6 separate regions of the Homo sapiens genome follow, and regions 1, 2, 3, 5 and 6 are each reported to be linked to region 4. The links are microRNA targets in miRTarBase. Many come from high-throughput screens and were not tested one by one. Region 4 holds a microRNA gene; each other region holds the end of a gene's coding sequence.
The links. The annotated mature microRNA hsa-miR-200b-3p reads UAAUACUGCCUGGUAAUGAUGA and lies in region 4 at 1,546-1,567, opposite strand. An mRNA with a match to its seed (bases 2 to 7 or 8) in the 3' UTR can be bound and repressed. Matches are read on the target gene's strand: a 7mer-m8 pairs with bases 2 to 8, a 7mer-A1 pairs with bases 2 to 7 and ends in A, and an 8mer does both.

Region 1: miRTarBase lists CCNT2 as a target of hsa-miR-200b-3p. Seed matches in the 3' UTR shown: 7mer-m8 at 3,400-3,406.
Region 2: miRTarBase lists ACSL4 as a target of hsa-miR-200b-3p. Seed matches in the 3' UTR shown: 7mer-A1 at 2,118-2,124.
Region 3: the mRNA of BBX is a reported target of hsa-miR-200b-3p. Seed matches in the 3' UTR shown: 7mer-A1 at 2,813-2,819.
Region 5: miRTarBase lists PPP1R18 as a target of hsa-miR-200b-3p. Seed matches in the 3' UTR shown: 8mer at 1,402-1,409.
Region 6: the mRNA of DNAJB6 is a reported target of hsa-miR-200b-3p. The part of its 3' UTR that is shown has no 7-base or 8-base seed match.

What each region holds. Positions count from the first base shown.
Region 1 is chr2:134,954,285-134,958,284 of GRCh38, reverse strand. CCNT2 (cyclin T2) reads right to left here. Exons shown (of 9, transcript NM_058241.3): 9 at 1-4,000. The coding sequence ends at 3,637. Among named protein-coding and RNA genes, the nearest start is that of CCNT2, 37 kb to the right of the region's middle.
Region 2 is chrX:109,640,332-109,644,437 of GRCh38, forward strand. It overlaps ACSL4 (acyl-CoA synthetase long chain family member 4), which reads right to left. Exons shown (of 16, transcript NM_001318510.2): 16 at 1,004-3,855. The coding sequence ends at 3,698. Among named protein-coding and RNA genes, the nearest start is that of KCNE5, 17 kb to the left of the region's middle.
Region 3 is chr3:107,805,112-107,809,198 of GRCh38, reverse strand. BBX (BBX high mobility group box domain containing) reads right to left here. Exons shown (of 18, transcript NM_001142568.3): 18 at 1-3,829. The coding sequence ends at 3,742. Among named protein-coding and RNA genes, the nearest start is that of LINC00635, 71 kb to the left of the region's middle.
Region 4 is chr1:1,164,621-1,168,726 of GRCh38, reverse strand. It overlaps MIR200B (microRNA 200b), which reads right to left and starts at 1,623; the gene lies at 1,529-1,623. MIR200BHG (MIR200B, MIR200A and MIR429 host gene) reads right to left here. Exons shown (of 2, transcript XR_007065348.1): 2 at 1-4,106. It overlaps MIR200A (microRNA 200a), which reads right to left and starts at 864; the gene lies at 775-864.
Region 5 is chr6:30,673,922-30,678,027 of GRCh38, reverse strand. PPP1R18 (protein phosphatase 1 regulatory subunit 18) reads left to right here. Exons shown (of 3, transcript NM_133471.4): 3 at 740-1,639. The coding sequence ends at 759. Among named protein-coding and RNA genes, the nearest start is that of DHX16, 3.0 kb to the right of the region's middle. RefSeq lists a silencer at 2,930-3,069.
Region 6 is chr7:157,415,502-157,419,607 of GRCh38, reverse strand. DNAJB6 (DnaJ heat shock protein family (Hsp40) member B6) reads right to left here. Exons shown (of 10, transcript NM_058246.4): 10 at 2,169-3,592. The coding sequence ends at 3,510. Among named protein-coding and RNA genes, the nearest start is that of DNAJB6, 81 kb to the right of the region's middle.

The DNA of each region.
Region 1 (4,000 bases), not on the chromosome of region 4:
AATTTAAGCAGATATGCTTTTCATTTGGATAAAATTGGAAATGGTGTAATACCTTGAGAGAATGGTTTTCCTAAGACGTTACCATGTTAAAAAAGTCCCCATGTCTATAGAAAATGCAAAACCCTGAAATATCTAATCAACTAACTGTACTCATGAAATGCATAATATTCATGCAGATATAAGCAGTGGTTTATTTCTAAGGTTGCTTAACGAATACAAGTCAGCAATTTAAGTTCTCAAATAGAAAAGAAAATGTGCTTGAAACCTTTTAAGGCAATGGTATTTTGTACTAACAAAAACATTTCATATTGGTTCTCTGAAATAGCCCTCAAGTAGTCATTTCTAGTTCAAAGAGGATAGGCCAAAAAAATTAGGTATTCTATTAATTATTAATACAATCTGTTGCTACAAAGCAATATACGCAGCCACTCATGACATTCAAGAAACCATACATCATGTTAGAAATTTCTTTTAGATGACTCTGAATAAGAACTTTAACCAGAAGGAATCTGAACACACGGAGGAAGACCAAGGTGCACATTTAACTGCTTTCAAAGATAAACCTAGGGCTGACAACAGGACTTTTTTGGTATTTACATACCTGCAATTAGGAAACTGTGAGGTTTTACCACTACCGGATACTGCCGCCCGTTAAGTAGGCCTCTAAGAATGTTTCAGTGAACAAACCACCCTTTGCTTTGGTTCTGAAAATACCTATTTTGAAATAGCTAAGGCAAATATTCAGAGGGACACAGCTCAATATTGGAAAACTGAATGGAAGAGGTAGAAATAAAGCCTTTCTTTGCAATGTGCTTCTGTGTAAAGGTAACAAATCAGTGATCTAGGGAAAACACAACTTAAAAATGACTCACTCTTTTATAGGATGTTTAAAGATAATGCTTTTTAATATTTCAAATATTTTTTTAAATCTCATCAAAAATGTTATCACCTTAACAGTACTTTGCACATGTGGAATTTCATACCTAAATTTGATACTATTTTGGTTTATTTATGGCTACTTACAAGAGTCACAGTAATAATGTCCACTCATCAGAGTCTTTCTTTGGTAGAGCCTAATGGGACCAGACAGATGAACTGTTATGCAAATGAGATGGATAAAGCAAATTCATGATAGTATGAATTATAAGGGTTTTTGTTTAATGGAAATACAACTTAAAAAGGATTTCCATATTTATCCCCATCATTATTTTGGAAGCTTAATACCCTGTTCAGGGGTTGAAGAGTTTGAATAGCTCACACAATCCTGTAAAAATGACAACTGGCTGCCCTTTAATAAATAAAGTCATTGTAAAGAATTACATTTACAGAGTGAAAAGTGAATACATAGCATTTCAAATTCAATTTTGGAAGTACTAATAAGTACTGACCCATAACAATATACACTAGCTATCTTTTTAACTGTCCATCATTAGCACCAATGAAGATTCAATAAAATTACCTTTATTCACACATCTCAAAACAATTCTGCAAATTCTTAGTGAAGTTTAACTATAGTCACAGACCTTAAATATTCACATTGTTTTCTATGTCTACTGAAAATAAGTTCACTACTTTTCTGGATATTCTTTACAAAATCTTATTAAAATTCCTGGTATTATCACCCCCAATTATACAGTAGCACAACCACCTTATGTAGTTTTTACATGATAGCTCTGTAGAGGTTTCACATCTAAATTACCAAGAAAGCCCTTCCCTCCCTCATCTTGCACTCAGCTTAATTCTATACTAGTCCTTGGATTATGTACCACTGTAAAAGTATAACTGTATCAAAATTACCATGTTTATGGATACAATATTATGCCATACAGAGCAACAAAGTTACATATAATGACAAAGATTACTGAAGTTATGCAAGACCAGAACAAATGTTAGGACATGCTACCTAGGCACAGTCCCTACAAAGAGGCTCCTAAGTACCCCAAGTTCAAATAACATTGACAAAATAATGAACAATTATCTTTAAAAATTATAAAGCTACTGGCAAATTAGGTAATTGCTAAATAAAGGTAGAGCATGAGATTAAACTCTAATATTTACAACTGCAACATACTTAATTACAATTGTGCACGTATCAGTGGCTTTGTAACAAAAATACAGAGAAAAAATTAAGTTTTCAGTTCAACAAGAGGTCGAATCCAATCAATCTCAAATATACTCAACAACTCAAAAGATTTACCACAGAATAAATTCAAGATTAGCTGATAAACAAGAGCCATATTACTGGTGTTTAAGACAAAATCTAAACAAGTTAAAATCTAATGCTTGATCAGAAGTCAGATGACTGTGCAAACTTTACCTCAACAGAAATATACTGAGATGTGCAAACAAATGTAAAACCTCCACTACTGGTTTGCCTGGGAGGCTGACCTTTTCTTTCTTACAGAGCTTCCTGATAACCATAAACTATAAATACAGGTACAATGCACAGTCAGTAATCTTTTCTTTTTTATTTATTGTTAGAATATAAAAGAATTGAGAGCATAGGTTTAATTTCATTTTTATAAGGAAGACTACATTTACCTGAAAAAGAAATATGGCATCACACACAAACACGCTTCAGGGAAGGAGTATATTTAAGAATATGGTGTCATTCTGAATGCTAAAGGAAAAGTGATCCCTGTTTACTATTAAAATATGTAGTGTAAAATTCTTTAAAGGAAACAACTCACTAAATCTCTACTAGGTAAGTTATTGTGAATTTAGTTTTCAAATCACAGTAATCCACATAACCATTATTAACAGCTCTGTTTCATAGAACTGCAACAAGCCAACAAACATTTAAATGCACTTCACATCAAGAGTATGTAAACTTTATTTTTTCCTCTTCAAGCCTTCAGAAAGTTAGGGGCTATTTCAGCAGCCAATCTGGTCAGAACCTCTGAAGGCAAAATTTCAGTGCCTCACAGTGTATATGACCATCTGTTGCACTGCACACATCTGGTAGTGAAGTGTCCCCTATCAGTGGCTTCCAGTAAGGCCTAGAGTTTAAGGTTAACATAAAAAAGTGCCACCTTTGTTTTAGATTAGTGATGGACTCTGACAAGATAAAATAAAGTTATTCTGTATATTGTTATACTTACAAGCAGCTCCAATCCTGAGTATTTACGGTAATATCTAAACATACAAAAATGTATGTACATTTTTCTCCACTTTCTTGTAAACAGTTGTCAGTATACTGTTTTATCCCTTTATCATTGAAACATGCAAATCATACATACAAGTATAAATACACAAAAGAAAACAATTTACACTCATTCAAAAGCCAAGCAACAAAAAATAGCTACAGTATTCAAATCATAAATAATGAATGCTTGAGGCATCTTATATTCCTAGAAGCAGCCAGCCATTCATCCTAATGTTCTTAGCTGCAATTGTAGAAATACTGAGTTTTGCACCTTCCATGCTTTTACAGTATTTATAACACTATCATATGTGGAGATAAAGACTTGTTTACTATAATCTCTTCTTTTCAGAATGAAGAATAAAGCAGCACTTACAAATATTGAAGCAGTGGCAGCAACAGCAGGGGTTACCACTGCTAGATCAGAAGGAATTTTTCCATTCTAACAATTTTTAAATTAAAAAAGTAAAGGAAAAATTGACCTAAACAAATTATTACATGTTCATTCCTTGGGCACTTAACAGTGAGTCCAGCATGTCGAATGTGTCTTTGTAGTCCATATGCTGGCTGCTTGTACTGTACTCGTGATTGGCATCAGGACCGTTGGTCTCCACTGGCTTCTTGTCCAGTTTCACGAGGGTGCTGAGATGTCCGTAGCCCACCTGGTATGTGACAGGGGGAGGAGGGGGTAAGGGATGGTTAAAAACAGAGTTGTGAGAGGATATATACTGCTTAACAGAGGAGGAAGAACTAGATGAACTACCTGAACTTTTGGAACTTTTGCTCATTTTGGAGTGGTGGTTGTGAGATGCATCATTGACATGCAGCCTCTTCCTTGAAGAGCTGGAGCTAGAGGAA
Region 2 (4,106 bases), not on the chromosome of region 4:
AAAGAGTCACAGACTCCTTATACCTAGTAGAATCCTCAACTTCTTGTGATCCATAGCCTCATAGCCCTATAGGAAACTCAGAACCTAGGGCATCATTTAAGAAAATAGAGCTTGGAACAGTAATATCACAATACTAAAGCTAGACATGATGGACCATAAGGACTATCATGTTCCCTATTTCTTTTGTCATTTGTCTTTCCCTTTTTGCAAAAGGCATCATTTTTGAATTTTTGTTTGTTTGTTTGTTTGTTTTTTAATGGGAAGAAGAAACTAAGGCTAAGGCTAAGGTTATGAGATTGGCCCATGGTTACAAAGCTAGTGTCAATAAGCCCAGGTCTCCTGACCTCTAGATCTAGAACTTTTTTCACAAAATCTTCAGGGGCAGTCAGTTCTTTAAGGCCCTGAGTATGCTAGTCAATACTTTAAACAACCTGACTGATGAATAGTGTCTAGGTACAATAATAATTATGATAATAATAGCTAACATAAGCTATTGTTCTAAACACTTTACATTTTAACTCTCACAACAATCCTATTAGGCAGATCCTATTATCCATCAACCCAATTTTTCCAGATGAAGAAATGCAGCTCCAAAATGTTAATTAATTTGCTGAAGGTTACACAACTACAGTGGCAAAGCCAGGAAATAGAGCTCTTAATGCCATTTTATACACACCCTCATATAACTCAAATTAATTTCTCTCTAAAATATTAATTAGCCTAAAAGTAGCAGTTATAATTTGGTAGCGCCCACTGATAATCCATGTTTTGTCCCAAAGTATCAGTGTTACAAAGGGGTTTTACTCTATTGACTGGACCAAAGTAACAGTTTGGGATTCAAATACTCTGAACTAATGGATGGGACTATACAAGCCGGTTTAACTGCTTAATGCAATTCCATAAACCTGGAGATGAGTACTTTAAAAATATGTGTTTAAAAGTTTGGTTAATAATCTTCAAACTTGGAGATTTTATCTCAATGCATAATGAAGTACAAATTGGCTTGATAACATGGGTGGATTTATTTCTTAAGATTTGAGTGCAAACTTAAAAACAAGAACAAACAAAGCTTTTCATCAAGAATAAACACAAAATCTAAACAATTCTGCAATCATGCATTTTAACAGAAAGTACAAATATGAATACATTATAATTTGTAACTGCATTTAAAAATTAAAATATTTCTCTCCAAATCCAAAACACCACACAATCTTTATCTGTTCTCATCTTGTTACCTTAGAAACATTTGTCATATGCTATCAGGAAAATATAGGCAAGACTTACTAATCAGTTATTCATGATCAAAGAAACATGATTCTCCTTAACTGTGACTTTTTGAATCATTTATCTGTATTTCTGAAATATCACACAATTATACCTCTACTCTAGAGAAAAAAAGAATAAATACAAATATCAAGGAGGCAGGAACATTCATGGAATTAAAGCAAAAGTCACAAGTGTTTGACTTAGAAATGTACATATTGTAGTAAATTTTTAAAGTACAACTTTAGTTGATGGCTGATGTGTATGTAATAACTGTGAGCAATTTAAACAGGTATAAAAATGTGAGATCAAAATCTTTAGGCTTAAATACTTGAAAAGTCACTATGGATATGGAAAGATTTGTTTACATAAACATGTATATTTTTAGATGGAAAATCAAGGGGTAGTGGCATCTCCCTGGTCCCTTAACAATATTTGGATTTTTGCAAAGAATTAGCAGCACCCAACCTTAAGTGTTAATTATGTGTTTCTAAAGGACCTATAACAGATCAGTTGGCAGTGTTCTAGCTTTTGGGAGTTGGGGGCAGATTGGGGGTGCAAATATCTGAGATAAGATAGTACATGCACTCACACATTTAAAATCACCATTCTAAATGGGAAAAAAAATCACATATTGGAAAAGTCTAAGAAACTCATTCTTAAGGGATAAACAGCAGGGCAGGAATAAAAGCTGAACAGTAGTCTACTTGATAATAATGGTATTTCACTCTTCAAAGGCAAGTTGGGAAGAATGAGAATACTCACATACACATAACTTCAGGGAAAACTTGCCTAAAATTTTACCTTGCAAAACGCTGAACAGAAATCTTTACAAAAACCTTCATTCTTGTTTATAATACTTGATTTTTCCCTTATTACCACCATATACATAACATTTAAGTATTTTCTTCATAAATATTTTAGAGCAAAAAGAATGTATTTTGTTGCAATGGTGGCCCACATCTGTACAAAACAACATAAGCAACACACACACACACATATATATATGCATATATATAAAAAATGATTAAGAAAAAGTGCAAAGAATAACAGTATTAAGATTTTTTGCATTTTACAGTAACTATGGTTCAAGTGTGAATATTTATCAGGGATATATAATCCCAGGTTTTAATTAAAGATTCAAAAAGAAACCACACTCCCAAGTTACTGCACAAACATCAGTCCCTTATCAAGTAACTCTGCCCTTCTCCCAAATCTAGTATTTCCAGTTTCTAAGCTCTTCCCAAACAGGAAAAAATGATAACAGTGTTTTCTTCCCTTTAACTTCCCAAAACTCATCCAAGTTAATCACCTGTAAGTTCAAGCAAGATATTGGGGAAGTCATTCATTATAACCCGCTTTGCTAAAATTAAAGCAAAATGAAAGGCTTTCTGAAATGCAAACTACTGATCAAGAATAAAATCAGCAACAGCAAACAGACCTTAAATTACAAATGTAATTTAATACATGTACATTTTAAAATCAATCCCTGTTATCAAAGATAAATTCAGAGTTTAAATCTCTTTCCCAGGTTCAGTGCTGTGCAAGGGTTCTAATTCCAAATACTTATGATTTTATCACCTTTTCTAAGAGAAAATGTTTGCCTGTTAACTTTTTACCTTCCTTGCTCTTGGTCTCAGCTTTTCAGTTTGAATAAACACAGAAAGGCAATTTTCAGCATTTCAAAAAATGTACTTTCCTCTTAGTCATTCAAATAATTACAGTTATTTTTAGATCTCAAAGTTTCAAAAAAAGCAGCTCAATTTCCCTTTAAATATATTACTAGATATTTTTTGGTGTTGTATATGTTGTTCTATTCTTATTTTAGGCACTGTAATTATTCACAACATTACAATGACTCTATATCTAACCTATGCAACAATTATAATCTTAATACCTTCTAAGGTATTATTTGATTTTGTGTATTATATTACTATTGAATTTTTCCTTCAAGATAAATGGTTGGAAGAGAATTTTAAAGCCCTGCAGCACTTTTGCTTTGAGTAGTGTTAATACATATTTTCTGTCATGCTTAATATTTAAACTTCTGAAATAGGAAGACAAGAGGCATTGGAAGCTGCAAATTTCCTCAAACTACATTCTACTCCAACTCCAATTTATTTTGTTCAACATTAAATATTTTTCTTTACAAAAACAAGTATATCTTAGGCTAATTTTTAAAAACAGAATTTCTGCTCTATAATAACACAGCTAAAGGGAAATAACTTTTCAATTTCAGCTGCACTAGAACTATGCAAAACTAAGTTAAAGTAAACCGGACAACAATTTTAATAACTTTTGGTTTTGTTTTCTTTTTACTCTATCTTTAGAATGATATACCTTACATTCTAACAGTTCAACAAAGGCTTAAAATTCTAGAGGTTGAAAACCACCAGGCTACCTCCTGCACAACTGTCAATAAGACAACAACATTTTATTTGCCCCCATACATTCGTTCAATGTCTTTGAGGTAATGGTTCCTCAGCTCCTTCCTTTTCAGTTTGAAAGCATCAGTTACCAAACCAGTTTCAGGGGTCCATGGCTCTGGGCTTAATCGAACCTTGATTGGAATTTCAAATCGCTCCAATTTCACTGAAATTAGAAGTGAAAGATGGGAGAAAAGGAGAGGGGGGGAAAGAGACGAGAAAGGAGTGGGGACGGGGAAAGAAGGGGAAGGAGAAGCAATTAATAAAATATGAGTTTTTCAGGATTTACCTAGATGATTCGGGTGTTGAATCACCAATCACCACAAACTTATTTAATGGTATACTAGATAGTTTATTAATGCTACCTCTACCTTACAATTTCATTTTATATTTCTCAAAGTATACCTAAGTTGTTTC
Region 3 (4,087 bases), not on the chromosome of region 4:
AACATGGCATTCAGTTTTCAGCTTACTCCTGTTCTGTAGCAATTTGTAATTAGCTTGTGACTTTACATAGGTGCAAACATTTCCATACATTGAGCCAAAGACTGCAGAGTGCAAACAAAATTTTATCTGACTTACAGTAGCATCTGACTTAATAAGAAAACAAAAGGATTTGAACACATTGGATTCTAAATAACCAGACCAGTTCAGATGCTCCTTTTTGTTCATAGTGTTCCATCATTATTTTGTTTCTCCAGCAATTTTAGTGGCAGGAAGTAGAATCACAATGATAACGTGGGAATTATTTTAACATGGCTTTGGGACATGGCATCGGTAGAAAGCTCATCTGACAGAATTAAATAAATATATTTCTGATATTTGTGGGAAAAAGACTATCGGAATTACAACAGTAGAATTTACCTTTTAAAAGGGGTTTTAATGAATTAACAGTTTTGATCTAAAATCTGGGAACTAACCTAATTTGGGGACAAGAACCTGTATTTCCAATGTGGCTGTGGGACATTTTTCTTTTTCCTGATCTCATATACAGTACCCAAACAAATAAAAACTTTAAGGATGTCTTACAGTATTTTTTCTTTCACTCAGCTTCTTACAGCTGCAGCTTCAGTTACTATAATATACTCTACACACTTCAAAATTACATAGGAAATACCCAGAATAACTAAATAAATAAAAGGCTAAAGAAAACTGGAACAGTACTGCGTCTCCATCTGAGACGCAATCTTCTACTTCCAGCATCGCAGAGAAGGGCTAGGACAATTTTTTTTCAAAAGATTTATATACAGGCTTGAATCCAGAAATTAAGGTTAAAAGCATAAATATTGATAATTTCAACTAAATTCAGAATGGTTTCAGAAAGATATGATACAACAATTTAGAATAAAACAAAGCAGAAGAGCATCATATTTTGGTTTGCTTGAGATATATATAAGGTGCAACAACTTTTTCTCTTGAGGATGCTGTGGGACAAATGTTAGTGTAGATGGTATCTGCTGGCAGATTAAAGTACACACTATAGCAATATGATTTTCCAAAATAAAAAAGAATGAGAGAAATGAAATGAAAATGATAACAAAAGGTGGGGTGGAGAGCACTAATATTGGTCTGAAATATTTGTGCTAACGAATGTTGTTACCTGAAAATAACAACACTCCTCTCCAGCAGTTTCAGGGCATGAGAAGCACAATTATTGAAATCAAGACTTTACTCAGAGAATCGACAAGGTGAGTCTAAGGAACTATAAAGCTTTGCAGGATTTCTGCTACTCTCAGTGCCTAACCGCTTAAAAATTAAGCATTTCTACAAAAAGGTTTGTTTTAAAGTATCTGAAAACAGTCATCTCCAGTAAGTTGCCCTCCCACCCCCAACCCTGCCTAAGGGAAAAGCCACTGAGGTTTAGGAAAAGCAGATCAAGTAAGATATTAATCACATAGAAAAAAAGTAATCTTTTGTTTTGCTTTTTTTTTTTTTAAAAAAGGTCCCAGGAATATACAGCAATCTCGTAAGGAACTCTAGTGAAATGTAATCGGAGGACTGAAGGAGGGTGCTCTGGCAAAAATAGATCTATTCTAACGTGTTCTATAGAATAACAAGTTAGTACCATTGTCAAGGTGCATGTTCCGCACCATACAATTTTTGTTGTTGGTTTTTTGTTTTGGATTTTAGCTAATTATAATCTTCAAATCACTGCTAGCGAGTGGTCCAAAACTCCAACAGCCACCAACATCGGGACCCAGCAATTTCAAACATTCACTTTTTGTTTTGAAATTTAGAAAATATTAATAAAACAGCATCATAGTAAAAATATTATGCAAAAGTCTGGAACTGCTCACTTGATTTATTCCTACATGAATGGGGTTAAGTTGTAACGTTTGATTAACCTTTTACTAATGCCTTCTTCCTCCATCCCCACCAGGAATATGCATTTTTGAGCACATCATTCCGATGCTTTGCTACCCTCTTTACCTGCTTTGGAAAAAAAAACAAGAAGAAAAACCTCTATTTTTTTTTCAATCCTGTTAGTATGTTGTACATATTTTCCAGCACCGGAACTGAAGTAATATCTACAACCATGAGAAGCTAAACCTAGTATGAATAGAGTCATTTTTTGTATGGCTATTACGTCAAATTACAATTAGAAAAAAAATCATTACAATTCAGTCAAGTATAAATAAGAAAGCTAGATAAAACCATGTAAACTGTCACCATTTAGAGATCTAATTCAAAAGCTTCAAACTCGAACTAGCACTGTCAAAATTCCGCCAGTTTGAAAACCATTAAAAATTATTGCTGGAATCCAATAATTAAAATTTGGTAGTTTGTGCTGTGACGCAAGAGTGGGGAAATACTTTGTGCTATAGAACAAATACCCTGTAAAATCTGTAGCCTCAGACTAATTTTGATTTATCACTTTGCATCTGTTGCTAGGAAACAAGACACTGTGAATGTCAGGTGGTTAAGTCAATATGTTGAATGTTCTAAGCCAGTTAATCCACTTGGCGCTGCTTATGTATGGTTGGTTTTATGTTCAAAAGCAACAAAACACAAAAAGGAAACAGAGACTTGCAGGTGGATCTATGACTGAGAGTCCCACTCTGGTCAGGCATACCTCCCTCATCATTGACTCAGTACCTCCTAAACAACACAAACTCAAAATGGCTCTAAAAACCTGCAGTGCCAATCAGGCTGTGCATAGCAATTGCAACCCGTCCAGCCAATCTGTGATGGATGTAAAAGGTCTGTAGCTCCAAGTCCACATGAAGTGAGTGTCTTCAATGTGTTTAGAATAGTGAAGTAATACTAAGGTCACTTCTGAATAATATTTTTGTCTTTTTTTTTGTTTGTATGAACAATCCATTGGTCACTTAGACCCCTATGTAAAAATAAAAGAATCCTCAAGGCATGAAAACACCAGTAATCTGTAATCTGCAGGACTCTTCCCCTGTCTGGGAAAATATTTGCCACAATTTGCCTCAAGCAAATTCTTCTTGGTCACTCAAGGCTAAGAAAAAAATTCAGATTGTAAGAGTTGTAATTTTTTCTCTCTCTCTTTTTTTTTTTTTTTTGCCAGCAAACTACCATTCTGGTGGCAAATATAAAAGTGCAGAATATATGGACCACGAGGCCGAGCATACACCACTAACAATGGTACATCTGCCTGCCCAGGCTGCTTGGGAGTCTCTGGAACAGGCTTTTTAATATTTATTCTACAATATAAATGTAGGTATAACCTATTATATAAACCATCTTAAACTTAAATCTCCATGTACAAAAAAGACTAAGAATATCTAATAATAACTAGTGCAGTGCGTCAGTTTTTGTTTTTTTTTTGTTTTGTTTTGAAAGAATAACTAGGTAATATATGAAACTAGTTTCACACTCTCTGGTTGGTAAAAGAGATGCTGGGTGAGCTACAGTAAAGGCAGCCTTTTACCAAGTTACCACCTATTACCGTCAAAAGCCTTCAATAGAAAGCAAAGCTCCAGGATCATTCTGTTTCTGCTCAGTATCAGACAGATAACCTTACCCTCAAAGATTCTGGGTTCTGAGAGAACAAACTGGCCCAGGATGCTAACTTCTGCTTCAAGTGAATCTGGGCCGTGTGGGGCAACAAGCACTTGTTTGCAGTCTATATTTTCCACCACTTGGACTCACTAGCATCCCTCGGTAAAGACAAGGCTAGGGTAGTAGGTAAAGCACAATGTTTTACAATGAAAGGGCGCTTCACTGGTCAGCGCAGGAAATAAGTACAGGAGCCTGCGGCATTTCTTTTGGCTGTCCATCATGGGTGAGCGGAGTTGACCTCTGACCTCTGTAAAATAAAAGGAAGAAAAAGTCACTTATTCAGCATATGTTATTAGAGACAGGAGAGGACGATGAATAACAAGTGTGTTCCAATATCTTGTTTAACAGTTACTGCTGTTACTTACATCATTTAATGAAAACTGTTTTTGCTTTAGAGTTTTTTCTCTTCTGTCCCCTTCCTTATCCTTTTTTTCCCCTTCCTCCTTCCCATTCTGTCTCCCTTCCTAAGATTTTATATCTGAATTCCCCTCATACAACTCAACAG
Region 4 (4,106 bases):
TAATGAGTAACAGTGAAGGGCAGCCTCTCCCCGGTGGCTGCCCCCTCCCCAGGCTGGGGCCTTGTGTGGGGGTGCGGTCCCAGGCGCCCTGGTTGCAGATGGAAAAGATGAAACAATGGGTCATCCTGGCCTGGTGGGTTTTGGACAAAGTTCCTGTTCTTGTTGACTGGGGGAAGGAATGAGACCCCTTGTCCCTCAGAGGGCAAGCGCAGAGCGTCCCCGCTCCCCTGCATGGTGGGGCTCGGGAATCTGAACCCACCTTGTCCTTCCTGCGCCCCCAGCAGACCCTCCACGGAGCCCGGACCACGTGAGAGAGGCCACTGTTGCTCTTCCCTCTCCAGCCCTGGCATCCCAGCCCTATGGCCTTTCCTGGAGCCAGGTCACCCTAAAACCCAGCCTGGGAGGTTGGGTGGGGGAGGCACAGCGGCTCCGGGAGGGGGAGCAGGATGCCCTCCAGGCCACCTGTGGAGGCACCAAGGGGTCCTCAAGGTGTCAGACCCAGCCTGGGCGTGAGTGACCCCGGGGGCACCCCCGGCAGAGGCCGGCCCCTCCCCTGGGGGCTGGACTTCGGAGCTGACACAGGCCCTCTGCCGCCCGCTCAGCCCTCCGCCCTCACCCGTCTGCTGGCCCCGCTCGGCCCTCCGCCCTCACCCGTCTGCTGGCCCCGCTCGGCCCTCCGCCCTCACCCGTCTGCTGGCCCCGCTCGGCCCTCCGCCCCAGCCCATCCCTGGAGTAGGAGCTCCGGATGTGCCTCGGTGGTGTCCCCGGCGAGCGGCGGGTCACCTTTGAACATCGTTACCAGACAGTGTTAGAGTCAAGCTGGGAAATCCAGCACTGTCCGGTAAGATGCTCACAGGGGCCCGGGAGGGACGTGGGGTCCCGCCAGGCAGGCAGGGGCTGCTGTGGAAGCCCAGGGAAGAACCGGAGCGGTGAGCAGCCAGGGGTGGTGCCGGGACCGGACAGGGCTGGCGGAGAGGGGCTTGGGGGCCCTGAGACTGCACACAGGCCCACCCTCCCTGCTTCCTCCAGGGCAAGGGGACCCTGGGGCTGCTGACCCGGGACCAAGGCGGGGGCACTGGTCTGCTCGGTGGCCGGCCCACCCTGTCCGGCAGGAGGGAAGATGGCTGTGGCCAAGCTGGGTGGGGCGGCTTCCTCTGGGTTCCACGTGGCTCCCGGTTGGGCCTTGCCCTCCTGAGCCCTCTGTTGGGTCCTGCTCGGCCCGCACCTGCTGGGTGTGACAGCAGCTCCCGCCCAGGCGCTGTGGGCAGGGCCCGGACACCTGAGCGTCCTAATCCCCAGATCACTGTGGGGCGCCCTGGGTGCAGCTGCAGGAGGCCTTGCATTCCGGGGTCTCTGAGATGCTGGTGGGGGGCGCCCCAGCCCCCTTCCGAAGGTCACGTCCCCCCGTCACTCTCCCCAGAGCCATCTGGCCCGGACGGGGTGGGGTCCGGTGAGCGGGCTGTGTGGGAGGGGAGTGTGGGGCTCGGCGGGAGGCCCTGGGGGCCGGGACGGGGTCGGCCGGTCGCTGCGTGCAGGGCTCCGCCGTCATCATTACCAGGCAGTATTAGAGACCTGACTCCATCCAATGCTGCCCAGTAAGATGGCCACGGCTGCCCGAGCTGGGTCCGGGGGCCGCCCGGCTGAGGGTTGCATGGGACTCGCTGGGAAGCTCAGTAGCTGGGGGGCCTCGTCCTCCTGGGGCACTGAGGACAGCATCGCCGGAGGGCAGGGGCCCGGGTGAGCCCCACCCGCCAGCCCTGCCGAGTCCAGCAGCCACCAGCTTTGGGTCCTGGGGTGGGCACCTGGGGGGCCGAAGTGTCCTGGCCAGACGGCCGAGGACTAGGTCGGAGTGGGGCTGACACGGGCCCTCTGCCCGCCCCGCTCGGCCCTCTGCCCCCACCCCTCTGCGGGGGACCTTCCCTCTGGGTGGTCCCATAGGAAGGCCTGGACAGCAGCCCCAGCCCCCCGGGCCCCACGTGCTGCCTTGTCTGAGGCAGGGGACAAGGGCCTCTGTCTCCAGGATGGTGTTCCAGGAGCTGCTTCCCTGCCCAGCCCCTTCTCTTCTCAAAGGCCCGGTGTCTGCGAGGCTCTCGAGACAGAACGGTCCCCGCCACCTGGAGACCCCTCTCCCATGCTGCCCCGCTCACTGCACAGCGTCTGAGGGCAGGGGGTGCAGGCGGGGGTGGGGGTGGGGGTGTGGGTGGGGGTGCGGGCGGGGCAGGCTCCTGACCCTGCCCAGCCGTCCCTGCGGTTTGTGTGTCTGCTGGTCTGGGGTCTGACCCAGGCACAGAGGCAGACCGGCCACAAACACAGACACAGGCAGTCAAGCCTCAGACGCCGCGAGGGCTGAGCCGCCTCTGCAGGGGGGCAGGAGGAAGTGGGCAGCCCTGTGGCCCCTCCTTGCTCAGGGCCCTGCCTGGAGCCCAGAGACCCTAGGCTTCTACTCCAGGCACACTCAGGACCCGAGGGAGGTTCAGCCCTCAGGCCAGACCAAGGCTCCCCGCCCGCTGGACACGCCGTCCTTCCTGTCCTCCTTCCCACCCTTTCTCTGCAACCACCTGGTGCCAACTGGGCCCAGAGAGCTGGCCAGAGCCACTCTTCAAGTTTTCTGGCACCTTCCACCCACAGAGGCTGTAGGTGGGGCGCAGGCCCTGTGCCGATTCCCCTGTCTGCCCGCCGACCACAACAAAGGTCGTGTCCGCCCGCCCCCGCCTGCTGCCGGGTCCACCCGGTTCCAGTCTCCTCCTCCAAAGGCCACGTCTCCGAGGTCCTGACCCAGCTTCCCTCACGCCTGGACCCTCTCCGGAGACCCCACACCAGGTCCCCTGCCCTGGCCCCAGCCTGTCAGGCTCCAGGGCACCCGGCTTTCCCTTTCCATCACCTCACAGGCCTTCGCCACCAATGCCATCAAATCCCATCAAATCAGTGCTTCAGGAACACAATTTCACCTGTTTTCTGAGCTAAAGGAAACTAAGACTTCCCGTTCAGAGCAGAGTTGAATTTCAGCTCCATTCCTGGCTGCCAGGTCACGTGGGGAGGGCAGCAGGTGCCCGGCACTCGTCCCTTGCAGCTGGGGCCAAACACAGTTCCCAGCCCACCCGGCGGACGGGCCGGCCTCCCACTGCCAGGTTCAGGGCCCGGGGCCAGTGTCCCCAGGCCCTTGGCCACCCAGGGCCAGCCTTCTCAGGAACCCCACAGGGCCAGAGCTGGCCTGGCCACCCCAGGCTCATCAGTCATTGCGTTCTCACCCGGGAGGCTGAGGGGCACACGGCAGAGGCTGGGACCCAGGGACAGACCCGTGTGGCAGGCAGGTGGGAGAAGCCTCCTTCCTAAGTTCCAGGGCAGGATTCCCAGGCGCCTCCTGAGTGCAGAAGCTGTAAAGCCAACGAGCAGCTAGCAGGAGAGGCCGACCCTGGCTCCAGGGCTGGGTGGGGAGATGGTGGCCTGGGCCGGCAGGCTCAGCTGGGGGACCAAGGATTTCGCAGGGCCTTGTGCCTGGCACAGGGGTGAGGGGCAAGGAGTCGGGTGGGCAGGCGGCCGAGTCTTACCGTGGCCACAGGTCAAGAAATGAAAAGCGAAAACGGACCTTCCCTGTTTTCCGAGAGCCCCACGCGGCGCTTTCTTGTCAACCGTCGCCGGGAAGTGGAGCTAGCGTGGCGGTGCCGGTTGAGGTGTTGGGTTAATCATCACCGCGGGGCCAGACTCAGCTTGGGAAAATCCAGGAGTGAGTCAGGAGGCCCAGAGCCGCCCCAGCAAGGGGTTCTCTGCGGAGCACACTCCCCGTGGAGGCGCCCCTCGGCGCACCTGGCCGCCCTGCCCGCCTGCCTGGCCGGGTCCCACCTGCACAGGCTGGGGTGGGGTGGGAGCGCCCGGCGAGGAATGTGATCCCGGCGTGAAAACCTAACTTGTTGGTTAACCTGCCCGACGGGCTTAATCAATGGTGCGGCCTCGAGAACAAAGTGTGAAATCCAACCCTCCCCGACCGCGGGAGCCGAGCCGGGAGTCAGAGGCTGCCGGGGGGTGGGGTGCGGAGCTCGGCCTGGCGGGCACTCAGGTTCTTCCCTCTGCGTCGCCGGAGCTACGCGTCTGGGAGGCAAAGCCGCCAT
Region 5 (4,106 bases), not on the chromosome of region 4:
GAGGCAGGAGAATCACTTGAACCCGGGAAGCAGAGGTTGCAGTGAGCCGAGATGACGCCACTACACTCCAGCCTGGGTGACAGAGTGAAATTCTGTCTCAAAAAAACAGAAACCAAAAACTACCTCCTAGACTTGTAGAAAATATTAAGTAATTTTATTTATTTATTTATTTATTTATTTTGAGACAGCGTCTCCCTCTGTCGCCTGGACTGGAATGCAGTGGCACAACCTTGGCTCACTGCAACCTCTGCCTCCCAAATTCAAGCGATTCTTGTGCCTCAGCCTCTCTAGTAGCTGGGATTACAGATGTGTACCATCACACCTGGCTAGTTTTTATATTTTTAGTAGAGACAGGGTTTCCCCATGTTGGTCAGGCTGGTCTTGAACTCCTGACCTCAAGTGATCCTCCTGCCTCAGCCTCCCAAATTGCTTGGATTACAGGTGCTCCAGGCCAAGATTAAGTAATTTTTTGTGAAGCACCAAGAGCCACAGCTGGATATCATATTACTTAATCTCTCCTGGAGTTATGGTGAGATTAAACAGTTATAAGGATGCCTGGCACAGAGTCCGAGCTAAATGAGTGATGGATGTGGTTACTGGTGGTAACATGCTTTAGATATGGAAGATATTATAGGACTTCCTGCATGCCAACTGCCCTTCAATTTGTGTGGGGGGGAAGGGTGGGCAGAAGGCAGAGGCTCTCACTCATTCTCTAACATTATTGCCCCCTCTCCCACAGATGAGTCCTGCCGGCGGTGACCATCTTCCAACATAGGGATATACCTCCCTCCTTCTTATAACTGAAGATCCTGGAGCCCGGAAGATTCAGGGCAGACAGACCCTGATAATGAGCCTGGCAGGGAAGGGCAACCAACATCTTGTAACTTGCTTTCCCCACCCTGTTTCTGGGGGCAGAGCCAATTGCCCAATTTCTACCCTAATCCAAAGTCCCTGGTGTGGGTGGGGTTAAACGTGCTGGTGCATCCTAGGTCATCCAAGAGTGAGCGCCAAGTCCTGAGAAGGGGCACAGAACTCCCTGGAGGGTGGAGATGGAGCACCTGCCCCCCATGGCAGGGTACACTCTCCCCACAGCCTTCCTCCCCACCATCCCGTGGGGACTCTCGGGATTTAAGCACTCGTCTCTCTGGGAGGCCCAGACCCCACTCCATTTATAGGCACATCTCCTTCATTTCCTAGGTCACTGCCCCTTTGTTTACAGCTCCTGCCTCCTCCCTTGACCACAGCCTGGTTTACAAATTCCATCAGCTCCCAGCCCCACCTGCCAAAGTCCCAGGTTTACAAGCCACGCTTACTTGCTGTGTCTGCGTGGAATTCTCTCCTCTGTCCCCTCCAGTCTCCTCATTGGAGTGACCTGAAGGTGTGGCTTCCTCCACTTTTTCTCAGTATTACTTTGCCTTAGTTTTCCCCAAGAGGGAAGGCTGGAACTCTTAACTCTGTACCCCTTGATAGTTATTTAATTCTGTTTCTCCTAGTGGTTCACAATTGAACTGAATTGAGATGGTGTCGGGTGGCTAAGGAGACACCTCACCTCTCCTTCCCCATTGTGCCGCCTTTATCAATTGCCTGTTTTGTTTTGTTTGTTTTTTAACTTTCCATAATAAAATGGAGTTCTCTTCAACTCGTCTGCTTCTCCTTCTTTGGGAAAAAAAAAGGGTATGTGAGGGGAGGCTCTGGTGGCTGGGGGAGAGGAAAATGATGGGGGATGAACCAGGAACTCGGCACTGACATGTCAAAAGGGGTCTGGGAAGCTGCACGTGGGTTTCACGCAGGACAAGCAGGTGACATGAGAAAGGGCAGTTGAAGTGTCCACTAGACTGGAAGTGCCATGAGGGCTGACTACATCAGCTGGATTCACTGCAATATCCTGTACCTGTCAACTAGTAGACACGGAATTATTTCTAGAATGAATGACAACAAATGAATGAATAGAAGAAAAGGGTTAAAATATTACAGAGGACACTTTGAGTTGAAGGGTTCTAGTATTCAGAAGCCTGCTGCCATGAAGGCAGCTAGGTAGTGTATGACACAACCCATGTGGCTAATCCAGGGATACTTACTTAAAGAGCTGGGGCTACGAATACTAAATCTGAAATTGCTGCAAAATGAAGTAAGTATGTACAAGAGTCAGTTTCCTGGAAAAGGTTCCCCTCTGATAGACAATGGATTTTATATCGTTAAAGGCCTAAAGGCCGGGCACGGTGGCTCACGCCTGTGATCCCAGCACTTTGGGAGGCCGAGGCAGGCGGATCATAAGGTCAGGAGATTGAGACCATCCTGGCTAACACGGTGAAACCCCGTCTCTACTAAAAATACAAAAAATTAGCGGGGCATAGTGGTGGGCACCTGTAGTCCCAGCTACTCGGGAGGCTGAGGCAGGAGAATGGCATGAACCCGGGAGGTGGAGCTTGCAGTGAGCTGAGATTGCGCCATTACACTCCAGCCTGGGCAGCAGAGTGAGACTCCATCTCAAAAAAAAAAAAAAAGGTTTAAAAACCATCTTGATAGTGCATGGCTTTGGTGCCCATGTAGTTGATATTTGGAATTTTCCCATTTCAAAGAATATCTTATACAAATGTGGAACATCAATATTTTACTCATCAGGAAAATTTGTTTGTTTGTTGTTAGCTCTCCAGGCTAACAAAGATATGGTTGAATAGTTATAGTCCTTCTACCACTACAAGTTGCTCCTCTCAGACTGGTCAGAGGAGGCCCCACACCTTTACTATAAAACAAAATATATGAGACAAATTGAACTTAAGCATACGCCAAAGGTTTTCAATTTACTAGCAAGAGAACAAGCCAGGTGTCAAAAGACTCAGCCAGTTCAGAGAAGGTCTGGGTAGGGAAGGAAACAGAATGATTATATTAGTAGCCTGTTAGGTAAAGGTCTTAAAAAGTTTCCAGTTGTGACCCAGGAAAACAGAGTTAGGAAGCTCCGAGGTGCCAGGGGTGCTCACAGTCCATCTCAGAAACAGAAAACAATGCATTCAAGAGGTCAGGCCAGGTGTGGTGGCTCATGCCTGTAATCCTAACACTTTGGGATGCCAAGGCGGGTGGACTGCCTCATCTGAGGAGTTTGAGACCAGCCTGGGCAACATGATGAAACCCCGTCTCTACTAAAATACAAAAAATTAGCTGGACGTGGTGGCACGCACCTGTAGTCCCGCCTACTCAGGAGGCTGAGGCAGGAGAATTGCTTGAACCCAGGAGGTGGAGGCTGCAGTGAGCCAAGATCACGCCACTGCATTCCAGCCTGGGCGACAGAGTGAGACTCCGAGACTCCCTTTCCAAAAAAAAAAAAAAAAAAGTCAGTGATGTAGATCCACTTGTGGCTATTAATAAGAACAATGTTTCATTTCCTAACAGTAGTGCCTGGTAACTGCAATTAATCACAAAAGTATGATGCAGGATCAAACAAATCAGACAGCAGAGCATCGAGTAACAAATTCAGCTTTTTGTTTTGTTTGTTTTTTTTTTTTGAGCATAGTCTTGGTCTGTTGCCTAGGTTGGAGTGCCTGACCTCGGCTCACTGCAACCTCTGGCTCCTGGGCTCAAGAGATTCTCCTGTCTCAGGCCCAGTGCGGTGGCTCACGCCTGTAATCCCAGCACTTTGGGAGGCCGAGACGGGCGGATCATGAGGTCAGGAGTTTGAGACCAGCCTGACCAACATGGTAAAACCCCATCTGTATTAAAAATACAAAAACTAGCTGGGCGTGATGGCATGTGCTTGTCACACTTGTAATTCCAGCTACTCAGGAGGCTGAGGCAGGAGAATCACTTGAACCTGGGAGGCGGAAGTTGCAGTGAGCCGAGATCGTGCCATTGCACTCCAGTCTGGGCAACAGAGCGAGACTCTGTCTCCAAAAAAAAAAAAAAAAATTCTCCTGTCTCAGTCTCCAGAGTAGCTGGGACTACAGGTGCACACCTCCACACCTGGCTAATTTTTTGTAGAGATGGTGGGGTCTCACCCTGTTGCCCAGGCTGGTCTCAAACCCCTGGTCTCAAGATATCCTCCTGCCTCAGCCTCCCAAAGTGCTGGGATTACAGCAAGAGCCACTGCACCTGGCCTTGCTTACTTTTAAATA
Region 6 (4,106 bases), not on the chromosome of region 4:
GGTGACGGAGTGAGACTCCATTGCAAAAAAACAAACAAACAAAAACAAAACAAAATGTGTTAAACACAGGTGTGGTTATTCACGTCATGGTCCCACTTTTCCAGGCCTATGAACAAAAGAGCAGAGAGCTCTCCCTGGTGACGGCGCCACGTCCTGGTTCTGTCTCCAGCTGTGCAACCCACATGAGGGAAGGCACGTGGGACCCCCAGGTTAGGGTTAGGGTGTGAACGTTTCAGGATGTTTAAATGTATTTACTTACAGAAAGTGGGTTCTGCAGCCCTTTATGCCCCTGACAAAAGTGAATGGCGTACAGGGTGGCCCTGGGATTGGCAGTGGGGTGGCCAGGAAGCCCCACTGTGGTCCTGACACCCCCAGGACTCCCCACCCCAGTCCCACAACTGCAGTCCCTGCCACACCGTCCACAGCCCCCCTGCCTCCCACCCACCAGCACCTCACTGCCTTCCCCACCCCCCGCAGGGCCCCCCAGTGCTTGGGACGTCACAAAGGTGACGACGACAGGTGCCGCGCTCCCCCTTGCCATCATCTCAGCAGCTGCCGAGCACACCCAGGGGCCGGGCTCCCTCTCCACCCCCTCAGCAGACGCTGGCATAAGCAGCCGCGGGCTCTATCTGCAGCATCCACCCCCTCAGCAGACGCTGGCATAAGCAGCCGCGGGCTCTATCTGCAGCACAGAGCTCCTGGACCCGCCCTAGGGGGATGGGGCGCTGGGCGCAGGGGTCGGGTAGACCCCAATACCCCTCCTCACCTGAGAAGCAGATGCCTACCTGCTGGCCATGCACCTGCCGGGCCCCATGGACACCAGCTCCCTTCTCCTCCTGGGGTCGGGGTCTCTCCCTCTCAGCGAAGGGAGGACCCACCTGTGACATGAGCTGACTCGGTAGCCAGGCCGTGTGAAGACGGGGCTCTGGCCCCTTTGCCAAGAGCCTGTCTTGTGTGTGGCCTGGCTTGTCTGGAAGGCGCTCGCGGCTCTGTCCACGCTCCCTAGCTGTGCCCCTGCTGAGGCAGCCCGGCCACGCTCCTGGGACGGCCTGAGGGTCAAGTGGGCAGGGTTGAGGGCACAACAGTCACCTCTAAACCTGTCGAACCACCTGCCTCCCTCGCCACAATCTCAGCAGCAGATTCTGGGATCTGAGCAGTTGAGAAGGACTAATCTTGTTTTAAAAACACCCCCGACCCCGGCCCGCAAGGCGACTTACTGCACCGCCTTCCCCTGTCACCAGGAAGGCCGGACGCCAGGATGTCAGCACTGAGCGCGTGTCTGGCCCAGTCTTGGTCGCCAGCAGAGCCAGGGTGAGTCGACGAGGTTTTCCTCTCGGGACCCTCAATGCCTCCTGTGAAGGCTGCGGGAGTTTCCACCTCATCTGTGCGTTGGGGTGTTACTTTTTTGTTGTTGTTGTTGTTTTGAGATAGAGTCTCGCTCTCTCTAGAGTGCCGTGACGCAATCTGGACTCATTGAAAGCTCTGCCTCCCGGGTTCACGCCATTCTCCTGCCTCAGCCTCCCAAGGAGCTGGGACTACAGGCACCCGCCACCACGCCCGGCTAATTTTTTGTATTTTTTAGTAGAGACGGGGTTTCACCGTGTTAGCCAGGATGGTCTGGATCTCCTGACCTCGTGATCCACCCGCCTCGGCCTCCCAAAGTGCTGGGATTACAGGCGTGAGCCACCGTGCCCGGCCTTTTTTTTTTGAGACGGAGTCTCGTTCTGTCTCCCGGCTAGAGTGCAGTGGTGCGATCTTGGCTCACTGCAAGCTCCGCCTCCCTCGTTCAAGAAATTCTCGTGCCTCAGCCTCCCGAATAGCTGGGATTGTAGGCGTGTGCCACCACACCCGGCTAATTTTTTGTATTTTTAGTAGAGATGGGGTTTCACCATGTTGGCCAGGCTAGTCTTGAACTCCTGATCTCAGGTGATCTGCCCACCTTGGCCTCCCACAGTGCTGGGATTACAGGCGTGAGCCACTTTGCCCAGCCGGGGGTGTTAGCTTTAAAGTCATGTTTTCGCCTTACAGTGACGCATTTCGGAAGCAAGGCTTCTGCCTGCAAAACACCACTTTCATCCTTTGTAATCGTAATGTTGAAGAATTGCTTTTATTTCTAGTCAGTCTTAACGGTGCAACTTACTGGCGCTTACAAAGGACAGCAGGCGAGCTGTATTCAATATGCTTATGTTTTATTTATGTAGGTGGCATTTAAAATACATGATGTGTTTAGGGTTACATTGTCCACAGAAAGCATCAAATACCACTCCTCTCCCCGCCAAAACCAAATAAACAAAGCCAACTCTTTGGCAACAGTTGTGTTAAATAAAATCCCAGGTCACACTTGTTTCTGGCTCCCAAGCCTGGGTCACTGCTACATGGATTGCGCCAAAAAATTCCCAGCTTCAACACTGCTAGATTAAAATTGCTGGCATTTTTAAATCACAGCAAAGCTTTTCACAATGCCCTCAAGTCCAAGAGGACAAAGGAGAAAGCAACATGAACGGCAGATCCTCATGTGAAAGGGAAGGAAAGTCACTGGGAGGGAGCATGCAGGGAAGAAGTCAAGGCAGCCCTGGAATTCTACTCCGTGCTCAATAAAAACAAAACGTGAAGAAGCAATACATCATGCAAACGAAATAATGACCGGAAGTGGGCGCATCTAGTTAGAATGAAGTGACTTTCGTAAGGAGTCAATGTTCGCGAACTGAAACATGAGTTCAACCTCCTTGTGCCGTCTCTGGGTGTTTTGCGCGTGTGTAAATACCGGCCCGTTTTCCCCAGCATGGCCCTAACCCATGGACACTAGGGAGAGTGCCACTGAGCAAAAATTTTTTGCTAAAAATAATTAGCAAAAATCCAAGAAAAAAATATGGAATCTAGCAAAACCTACACCATATTTGAAGTTGAATTTGCACTACCTGCAAAGGATGAAAATTAAAAGAGTAAACAGAAGGAATGATTTTACATCTGATGTGATTCACGACAGCCTTCTATTCGTGTGGCCGGATTGCTCTGAGGAAAAGGTGCCCTGACGGGCAGGATTCAATGTGTCACTTGCAATATTCTCTAAGTTACACTCTACTGAATTACCTTCTAATTCCAAACACTACGCCGCCACAGAAAGCCTCATTTCATGAATGTTACTCAGTTAGCCATCTGCGCCCTCCTGTACTTCTAAAGCCAGAAATATTCCAGCAGCATGCGGAGTGGTTGAGTAGCCGAAAAGAATGAAGAGGATCCGGAAGCACTAGAGGAAAATGCAGCAGATTGAGAGCTGGAGAGAAGCAGAGAGTCGCGGCCAAGTCCCAAACGTCTGTCCCCGCCACCCGTGCCGTCAGCCCCGTCTCCTGACCCTGCTCTGACTGATCCGTGATCGCATAATCCTGCCGAGCGAGTGTGGCCTCGAGACAGTCCTGACCGACGCTGCTACCTAGCGCGTGTGCACGACCGCATGCCGAGCACGGTGGAGCGCCAGCGTCTGGGGGTGCACCGCGTGCCTCAAGTCCGGTCTAGTGATTGCCTTTGGTCGACTTCTTCTTCTTCGACTCCTCTCTCTGCTTCTGCTTCTTCCTCTTGCCACCTTCTTTCAATCCTAAGGAAACACGGCTTGTAAAACACTGTACGGAACAGCACTGCTTCCCCAGCAAGAGCCAAACATGTTTTCTAAATATCTCCCCATGTTAAGAACAAAAAGCAACAAAATGAAGTCATCTATCTTGGCCACAGCTAAACCTCAAAACGGGCGCTTTCCAAGGTGCACGTTGAGAACTGCTCACACTACCCAGAGAGCTTCACCACCCTGCAGAGAAGTGAGGACTCCCACCTACCCGAGTTCCGCCCAGCGGCAGAGCTAAAAGCCCACCCTGGGACTACCCCAGTTCTGCCCAGCGGCAGAGCTAGAAGCCCACCCTGGGCACGGCTGCACCTCAGTCCTGGAACCCCACCCTGGGACCTACCCCAGTTCCGCCCAGCGGCAGAGCTAGAAGCCCACCCTGGACACGGCTGCACCTCAGTCCCGGAACCCCACCCTGGGCTCTCCTTCAGAACGCACACTGGGCCTGCGCAAAGGTGTGCCCACCTGTGGGGAGGGTGTCCACAGGTGTCTC